Homo sapiens: one gene and its partner. The protein of the gene in region 2 interacts with the protein of the main gene of each other region in a biochemical or structural test. Each region holds a gene or a part of one and is shown on either strand. Other genes may lie near its edges. The genes, in order: MYOC and CAP1.

Region 1 (3,817 bases), about 130 Mb from region 2:
CTCAGAGAGGTGGAGTCATTTACCCAAAGTCACACAGCTGGGACATGGCAGAGCTGAACTAGGAGCTATGACTTCCGGCTTAGGTCCAGGCCCCTTTACGAGATTGTTTCCCTGCCTTTGGGTTTTGCATCCTCTATTCTGGGCTTCCACCCGCATGCCAGATGGCTCTATTCCTGGAGTCTGACCATTGCCAGATGCTCCTGGCTGACATGACCTAGAAGAAGCCAGCAGGCTCATAACTTAACCATCGCCCCTGCCAAATGGGAACTGGCCTTGCCGTCATCCTGGAAGCCATTCCCTGACATTTTGTTTTATTGCAGTTCATGTTTATTCCAGCTAATGCACATAAGGAGTGGTTCCTGCAAGGCACAATCTGAAGGGCTCCTTGCTCAGAGCCGTAAGGGCCATGGTGGGATTCAGCAGGGAACTTGGCACCAGCCAGGCACTTTTGCTGCCTCTTCTTTGCCAGTGAGGGTAGAAGAACTGATAAGAGGATTGAGTGCACAGCCCAGGAGCTGAGAGTTTACAAGGCAACCCACTGGGACCTGAGCTCAGCCCCAGGAGTGGGTCACCCCACAAAGTGCTGAGCAGCATCTTTGAGACTCTTCTGAAGCCTCCAGTAGCCATCTGGGTCCAGTCGGGAGATAGAAATCACACAGTGGGTTAAGCTGGGGAAGTTTACTTTAAAGAATTACTAACCGTGATGAAAGAGCAACTATAGATAGACGTGAACTCCATAGGCACCTAGGGCTGAGGGAGGGTGCCGGACAAGCTTGGAAGGGGAAGGTGAGGTTCAGCACATCAGCTTGCAGAGAAGGTGGCTAAGGTGTGCAGGCCTCAGCTGGTCTGCAGCTGCAATAGGCCGCCTCCCAGTGCAGGTGAGGAGGGCAACCTGCAACGTGTGGCAAGGGCATGGTGGGAGTCAGGGCAGGCACAGGCAGGAGGCCTCCAGAGCACTGAGGTCCGTGTGCAGGGACTCTGGGTTCCTTGTTGGGAGGGCTGTGGAAAGGTTATGGCCAGGCTGTGGCTGTGAGGTCACAGAAGAACTTCGCTCTGGGTCCGTGGCTGGGGTAGGACTCCAACAAATGTCCTCACAGTCATACCACCTATGGACGCAGGACAGGAAAACTGCAGACCTTTTTCCTCCCACGATGTCCCTCCAGCGCCCTCTACTGAGATAGTTCAACATCGCGCTCACTTCAAAGCTCTTGTTCTTCAGACAGCATACATGGGAGGGTGCATTCAGCTCTGAGAGGCAATGCGTTTATAACTGACACACCTCCTCAGCACAGGATGGAAGAGTTCGCAGCTGCCATGGCCTCGGAAGACATGGGTTCAAGTCCCAGCGATACCACTTAGCTGTGTGACCTTGGGCATGTTACTTAACCTCTCTGAACCTCGGTTTCCTCATTTGCAAAAGGGGATATTAATGTTCACTTTCAGGACCATTATTTGAAAGTAGTGAGTAGCAAGCACCCAGCACAGTACTGGCTCATAAGAGACACTTAATAAGTAGTAGCGATAGTTCAACTTTATCAGGCGCTATCTGCAGTCCTAAAGCCTTTCTCTATTTCTCTGAAACTTTGAAGGCACCAGATCACATTTAAAAATTACATAAAAATTACTTGAAATGGGCAAAGAGCTATAAATGCCGACAAACCATCTTGTTTCACAAAAAAAAAAAAAAAAAAAGCTGTTTTTTAGAGTTGCAAAGCCAGTACATACTTTAGCTATCCACAAGGAAGTCATCTGTGAAAATGCCTGACTTTTTTGGGTTTCACTTTCTTCCTTCCCTCTATAGCAAAAGGGGCATTTCTTTCTTAATTTTCTCCCCACTGACTGGTAGGTAGGTACCCCTACTTTTCTTAGTATACATCTTTTCTCGGTAAGTTGTTAAATTAAATAACCAGCATAAAATACATCATTTTGTATGTGTAAAGGGGCCAGATGCAGGGGAGGGATGGCTCGCCTGAATTTAATATTTTTTTAAAAACCTAAAAAAAAAAGCCCTAAAAATGTTAACGATCTGTCACAATATAGCCCTTAATATTTTCATAATCTCTTTTTGGTTTTCTTCCACATTCAGAATGAAATGTTAGTGATTTTGAAACATTCCAGAGAAATTTTAGTATTGACACATTTATTAAGGGACCCTCCCATGGCAACTGTGGATGGCATAGCTGAAGTGTAGGGACAAGGTTGGGGCAGTCCTCCAGACTTTGTGTACAGATGGCATGCAGTATTTCTCTCTCCTCACATTGCCTGAAACCAACTCCTTTTTTTTTTTTTTTTTTTTTTTTTGAGACAGAGTCTCTCTGTCACCCAGGCTGGAGTCCAATGGCACAATCTCAGCTCACTGCAACCTTTGCCTCCCAGGTTCAAACGATTCTCCTGACTTAGCCTCCCTAGTTGCTGAGATTACAGGCATGTGCCACTATGCCCGGCTAATTTTTGTATTTTTAGTAGAGACAGGGTTTCAGCATGTTGGTCAGGCTGGTCTCGAACTCCTGACCTCATGATCCACCCACCTCAGCCTCCCAAAGTGCTGGAATTACAGGCGTGAGCCACCATGCCCAGCAACTCTTATATTCTGAGAGTTGAGACAATGAAAGAAAAGAAATTTGAGTTGTCCTGAGGCAGAGTCTGCAGTGATCCAAGAAGAGGTACAGATGAAAGGAAACCAGCTCAATTCAAGGAACTTGCTTAATGCCCTGATTTTGAAAAATTGTCCTGGCAAGACTTTGCCACATCGAATGAGCCTCTGCACATTGCAGGAGGCTGGCAGGGCCAGGGAGCGGTGGGCTGCTCCTAACAGCCTGGGTGTGTGTTCTGGGCCTAAGAGAGAAGGCATGGCAATCGGCGAGGCAGCATCAGAGAGGAAGGTTACAGATGGTTCTGCCACCTGTGTACAGGAAGGCGGTCACTCTCTCTTACCTCTCCCTGGCAGCACAGAAGAACAGGGAACCTCGGGCACCCTGTCCCTCTCCCCCATAGGCAGCACCAAGTCCCTGCCGGAGGTGTGTGTTGCCTGCACAGGGGGAGAAGGGAAGCAGCTGGTACTGGTCTCAGGTCGATCTAAGGAAACTCCATTTGACCTAGTGAATCAGTCCCTGCCCTGGATACCCTCCTAGGCCAATGCAACCTTTAGAATGAAGAACAAAGGGGTTTCCTCACCCCTGCACAACCTCAGATAGGGAGAAGGAGACGCAGGGAATGAAATAAAAGTTTCCAGGACTCTCCAGGAGCCATTCAGATTGTCCAAGAAACTGGTTTCCGCAGCAGCCTGGAATAAACCCATTTTCCTTCTCGGGTATGAGGACTTTGCCAGATTATGATTTCCTTAAGGGCATGGACTGATTGTGTCTTTTTTTTTTTTTTTTTAAACATAGACTAGCCTATTAGACAAACTTGTGTCTTAGACACCTTTTTTTCTTGAGCACCTAGCACAGCCTTGCACTCAATAGGTGCTCCAATGATGTGACTAAAAGGATGGATAAATAGCTCTGTGGATTTGAGGCTAGGAATAATGAAGGCCTGCCATGTCCCGGGGGGTACTCCCAATTGCCCCTGGAGTTTGGAATGCACATTGAGGATGTCCTCAGTTACATATACATTTTGGCTTATGAGTCTTTCTTTTTTTAATTTTTTTTTTTTTTAAGACAGGGTCTCACTCTGTCACCCAGACTGGAGTGCAGTGGCATGATCATGGCTCACTGCAGCCTTGCCCTCTTGGACTCAAGAGTCATCTTCCTGCCTCAGCCTCCCGAGTAGCTGAGACCACAGACTGCACCACCACACCCAGCTAACTCTTTAATTT
Region 2 (3,817 bases):
CTCAAAAAAAATAAAAAAATAAAAAACATTTCATCAAGAGGACATGTGGTAGTTAGCCATTTCTCTTACAGTTGGATTTAGGTTGTTACACCATTTTTAGCTACTATGATCATAGATTCCTAGAAGTGGCTGGACAACTCAGACTTCCACCAGCTGTGTTAAGGGTATCTACTTTATACCAACATTAGGTCACTCTCATGCAAATTTTCCATGTAACCAGTATGCATCTTCTGAGGAAGTTAACTCCCTAACACAATGCCTTCCCAGAGGCCATGTGGTGCCACGGAAAAAGCTCTGGGGAAAACCGCCAGCTCTGTGCCTTGGCACAAGAGGGTCCTCTATATATGCTACCTAATATTAAGTCACTTTCCCATGGGGCAGATGGCTTCCTCCAACTGTGATCATCATTTTCAATTTCCATTTAAGCCAGCTTTGCCGTCCCTTAAAGGAACAGGACACACCAAACGAGTCTCCACCACACAAGCCAGGGTTGTAGTTTACAGACGGTTCTGGTTGGTGGGGTCTGGCCCACACAACTTGTTGTACCTACTGTTCGTGTCCAAGTGCTCACTCACCATGTGTAATGCTCTCCCCCTGATTAATCTGCGCGAACAGTGATGAGCGGGAAGCAGACTCATATGAGCATGAAATGGTAGAGACTGGGGGAGGAGGGGGGCATGGTGGAGGGGGAGGAGGACATGATCCGGCAGAGGGTCCAGATGGCAGTCCGCTCAGTTCTTTTGCCACAGGCCCCTGGAACAATAAGTGCAGGTAACATCATCATCCTCTCTGCTCCCCTCTGTACCATTCCCAGTAGTGCCCTACATGGGCCAGTGCACATGGGGTCCCCACCACAGCCTTTGAGGCAATGATTAATGTGTCCTACCCATACCCAACTTGGCTTTATGCCTTCTCACCCTTTCCCAAGGATCCAGCTCTCAGTTCTATTTCTTGACCATCACATTTTGCCTTTGAACTCACCTGATTCCAGCTCTAAAAACTATTTCCACAAATCTACTTGACATCTTCCTTAGTGTGTTACCAGTACCTCTGATTCAACAGATTCAAAACTGATTTCATCATTTCCTGCCGCTCCTCTCCCTGTACAATCATCCCCTTGTCCCTATTTCAGTGAAAGATGTTACTATCCAAGACTGACTATTCAATCTTCTTTGAGGATTCCAACTTCTTCGACCTTATCAAATCTCTATTATCTTGGTGCTATCTCCTGCAAATGTTTTTCTACTATCCCCCAAACACCATGACCACTTTCATAATCTGAGCATGAGTCCTTATCCCTAACCTATACACTGAGACTCTTTTAAAGACAAATTGAATCATTATCACTCCCTTGCTCAAATACCTCATCCCAAAGTCTCAGCCTACCTTCCTTTCCAGCCTTTTCTCCTAAAATTCTGATCATTTCCCCTTATTGAAGCCAGAGATGACCAATCTCTACATTTACTCTGCATGTATTTTGTTTAAGCTGTGCCTTTTGTAGTATCCCACTTCTCACTGCCCTATACTACTTTCAAGTCTCACAGAAGAGTATATACCTTCAAAGTACAATCTCTTCTAGTGAGAAGCACTCTTCTCTTCCTCATACTCTAGTCTGTATCTTTATTATAGCATTTGGCTTGGTGATTTGTATTGGGGTTTTGCATTCTTATTTTTAAGCTCCTTAAAGGCTGGGATAGTGTAACTCATTTGTGTGTGTCTCCTGCTCCAGCACCAATCACTGTCCCTAACATATTTATTGAAATTGAATACCACTGAATATTCCTTCTCCTCTGATCCTTGCTTCCTCTACTCTTTTTACCCTTTCTTTCTCCTCCTTTTCTTCCTCCCTTCCACTGAAAAAACTAGCATTCCCTCACAGACTTTGGTAGTGCTGAAGTCTAAGAAACCTGTGGACCCCATGCTGGAGAGAGAAAGTGGGAGGGAGGGAGGGAGGGAGGAAGGATTCACTAACCGTTTTGCTCCAGGCCAGTCCGGTGGTATGGAACTCCTTAATGTAAGCCTGCAGCTCTGTCCATATACTTAAATAAGCTTTGACCCAGTCTACATGCTTCTTATCCCTGGGAGGATTAAAGAAGAACTTGTCACAGGTGATCCGGGTACATAACAGTGGTGACTCCAGAACCCTTCTTTCCTATGGGCTCACATTCTCCTACCCGTGGTGTTTCTTAGGCTCCGCTCAATGGCAGCTTTTCTATCATCACCAGCTTCTATGTATATACAACCTAGTCTATTACCCTAATCAGACCAAACTCCACTAAGATAGAGACTCTGGATTCTATCTCTATCTCTCATAGCAATGTTTCTCAAACTGTTTTAAGTACCAAAACTTTTTTTTTTCTTTTGACCACTTGCTGCTTATTGAAACTTTTTTCAAAGTAGACCTTAAACACAATCTAATATGTAAAACTGATAAAAGCAGACATTCTGTGCATAAAACCATGGTAGAGAGGAGAGCTCTTAAGTATCACTGTGGAACTCTAAAGACTAAGAAACTTAACTGCCTTATGAGACAATGCCTTATGTCAAAATATGCCCACCCTGACCAAAAGCAAACTTAAAAACTTTCCCTTAGGGGGAAACAATCAGCCTTAAATTATAGAAATAGCATTGTGCCTACGGTTCAAGTCCCCTCTCTTCTTATGTATTAACTGGGAAGGTTATTTAGCCTAAGACCTAGTTTCCTCAACTGTAAAGTGATGGGATAATGGTGGGATATATCAAAACACTGTCATGCTTAATTCCATGTTGCTAGAAGGATAAGGAAGTGCCTGTTGTTCTGGGACACATTTCACTCACAGGAAGGTGTAGTTTTCCTTAAAAAGAGTAGTTAATAAATGTTTGTTGATTGATGAAGGATGGAAGAAAGGAAAGGCTTGTGTAGATATGCAACTTAATAAATTTTGCCTGCAATCATTCCAGCTCAAAACCAGCAATGGAGAAGTCAGAACTGGTAGACGTATGTGGTTAGACATGCAATGACTGCCCTACGTAATACCTGCATTGGCTAGGCAGCCTTACTCTCACTTTAACTGACTTCATGAAAAATTTCTATTAAGTCCTATTGAACCCTTTGCCATTGGGCCAGTAACAAATTCTCAACAAAGGAACAAAATCTTATATAAAGGGCATTAGTCCATGTTACTGCCAGCAAAACTTCCTAAACCCAGAAGGGTAAGGATCAGAAGACTAAAAGGGCCTCTACCAAAAAAGGAGAGAAAGCAGAAGTGGAAGCAGAAGTATTTCCTGCTTGCAAATGCAGCTGTGAGACAATATCTGTAAAGCTCTCCAGAAAGCAGCCCTGAGATAAAACCAGCACAGTGGCTAAGGGCAGCCCTCAGTAACTCCAAAGTGCTACTCCAGCAAGTAACCAAATGGGTTTATCCTTTACCCCTTGAGAAAAAGCTGAACTTGGCTGGGCACAGTGGCTCACACCTGTAATCCCAGCACTTTGGGGAGACCAAGGCAGGAGAATCATTAGAGACCAGCCTGGGAAACAGTGAGACCTCATCTCTACGAAAAAATTAGAAAATTAGCCAGGCATGGTGGAGCGTGCCTGAAGTCCCAGCTACTTGGAGGACTGAGGTGGGAGGATTGTTTGAGCTGGGAGGTTGAGGCTGCAATGAGCTGTGATTGTGCCACTGTACTTCAGCCTGGGTGACAACGCAAGACACTGTCTCAGAAAAGAAAAAAAGAGAGAAAAGGCTGAACTTACACATCTTTGTACTCTTTGAGGACTCGGTTTGTATAAAACATGGCGGCATCATTCATTTCTTTCACATAAGGGCCAGGCTTGGGA

The links.
Region 1: the proteins of CAP1 (region 2) and MYOC interact in far-western blotting, tested with the Homo sapiens proteins (one study listed by BioGRID).

Annotation. Positions count from the first base shown.
Region 1 is NC_000001.11:171,642,453-171,646,269, reverse strand, and holds part of MYOC (myocilin precursor), read left to right. Parts: intron 1-3,817. UniProt on the Homo sapiens protein: Secreted glycoprotein regulating the activation of different signaling pathways in adjacent cells to control different processes including cell adhesion, cell-matrix adhesion, cytoskeleton organization and cell migration.
Region 2 is NC_000001.11:40,064,476-40,068,292, reverse strand, and holds part of CAP1 (adenylyl cyclase-associated protein 1), read right to left. Parts: coding exon 3,734-3,817; intron 2,079-3,733; coding exon 1,973-2,078; intron 754-1,972; coding exon 576-753; intron 1-575. UniProt on the Homo sapiens protein: Directly regulates filament dynamics and has been implicated in a number of complex developmental and morphological processes, including mRNA localization and the establishment of cell polarity.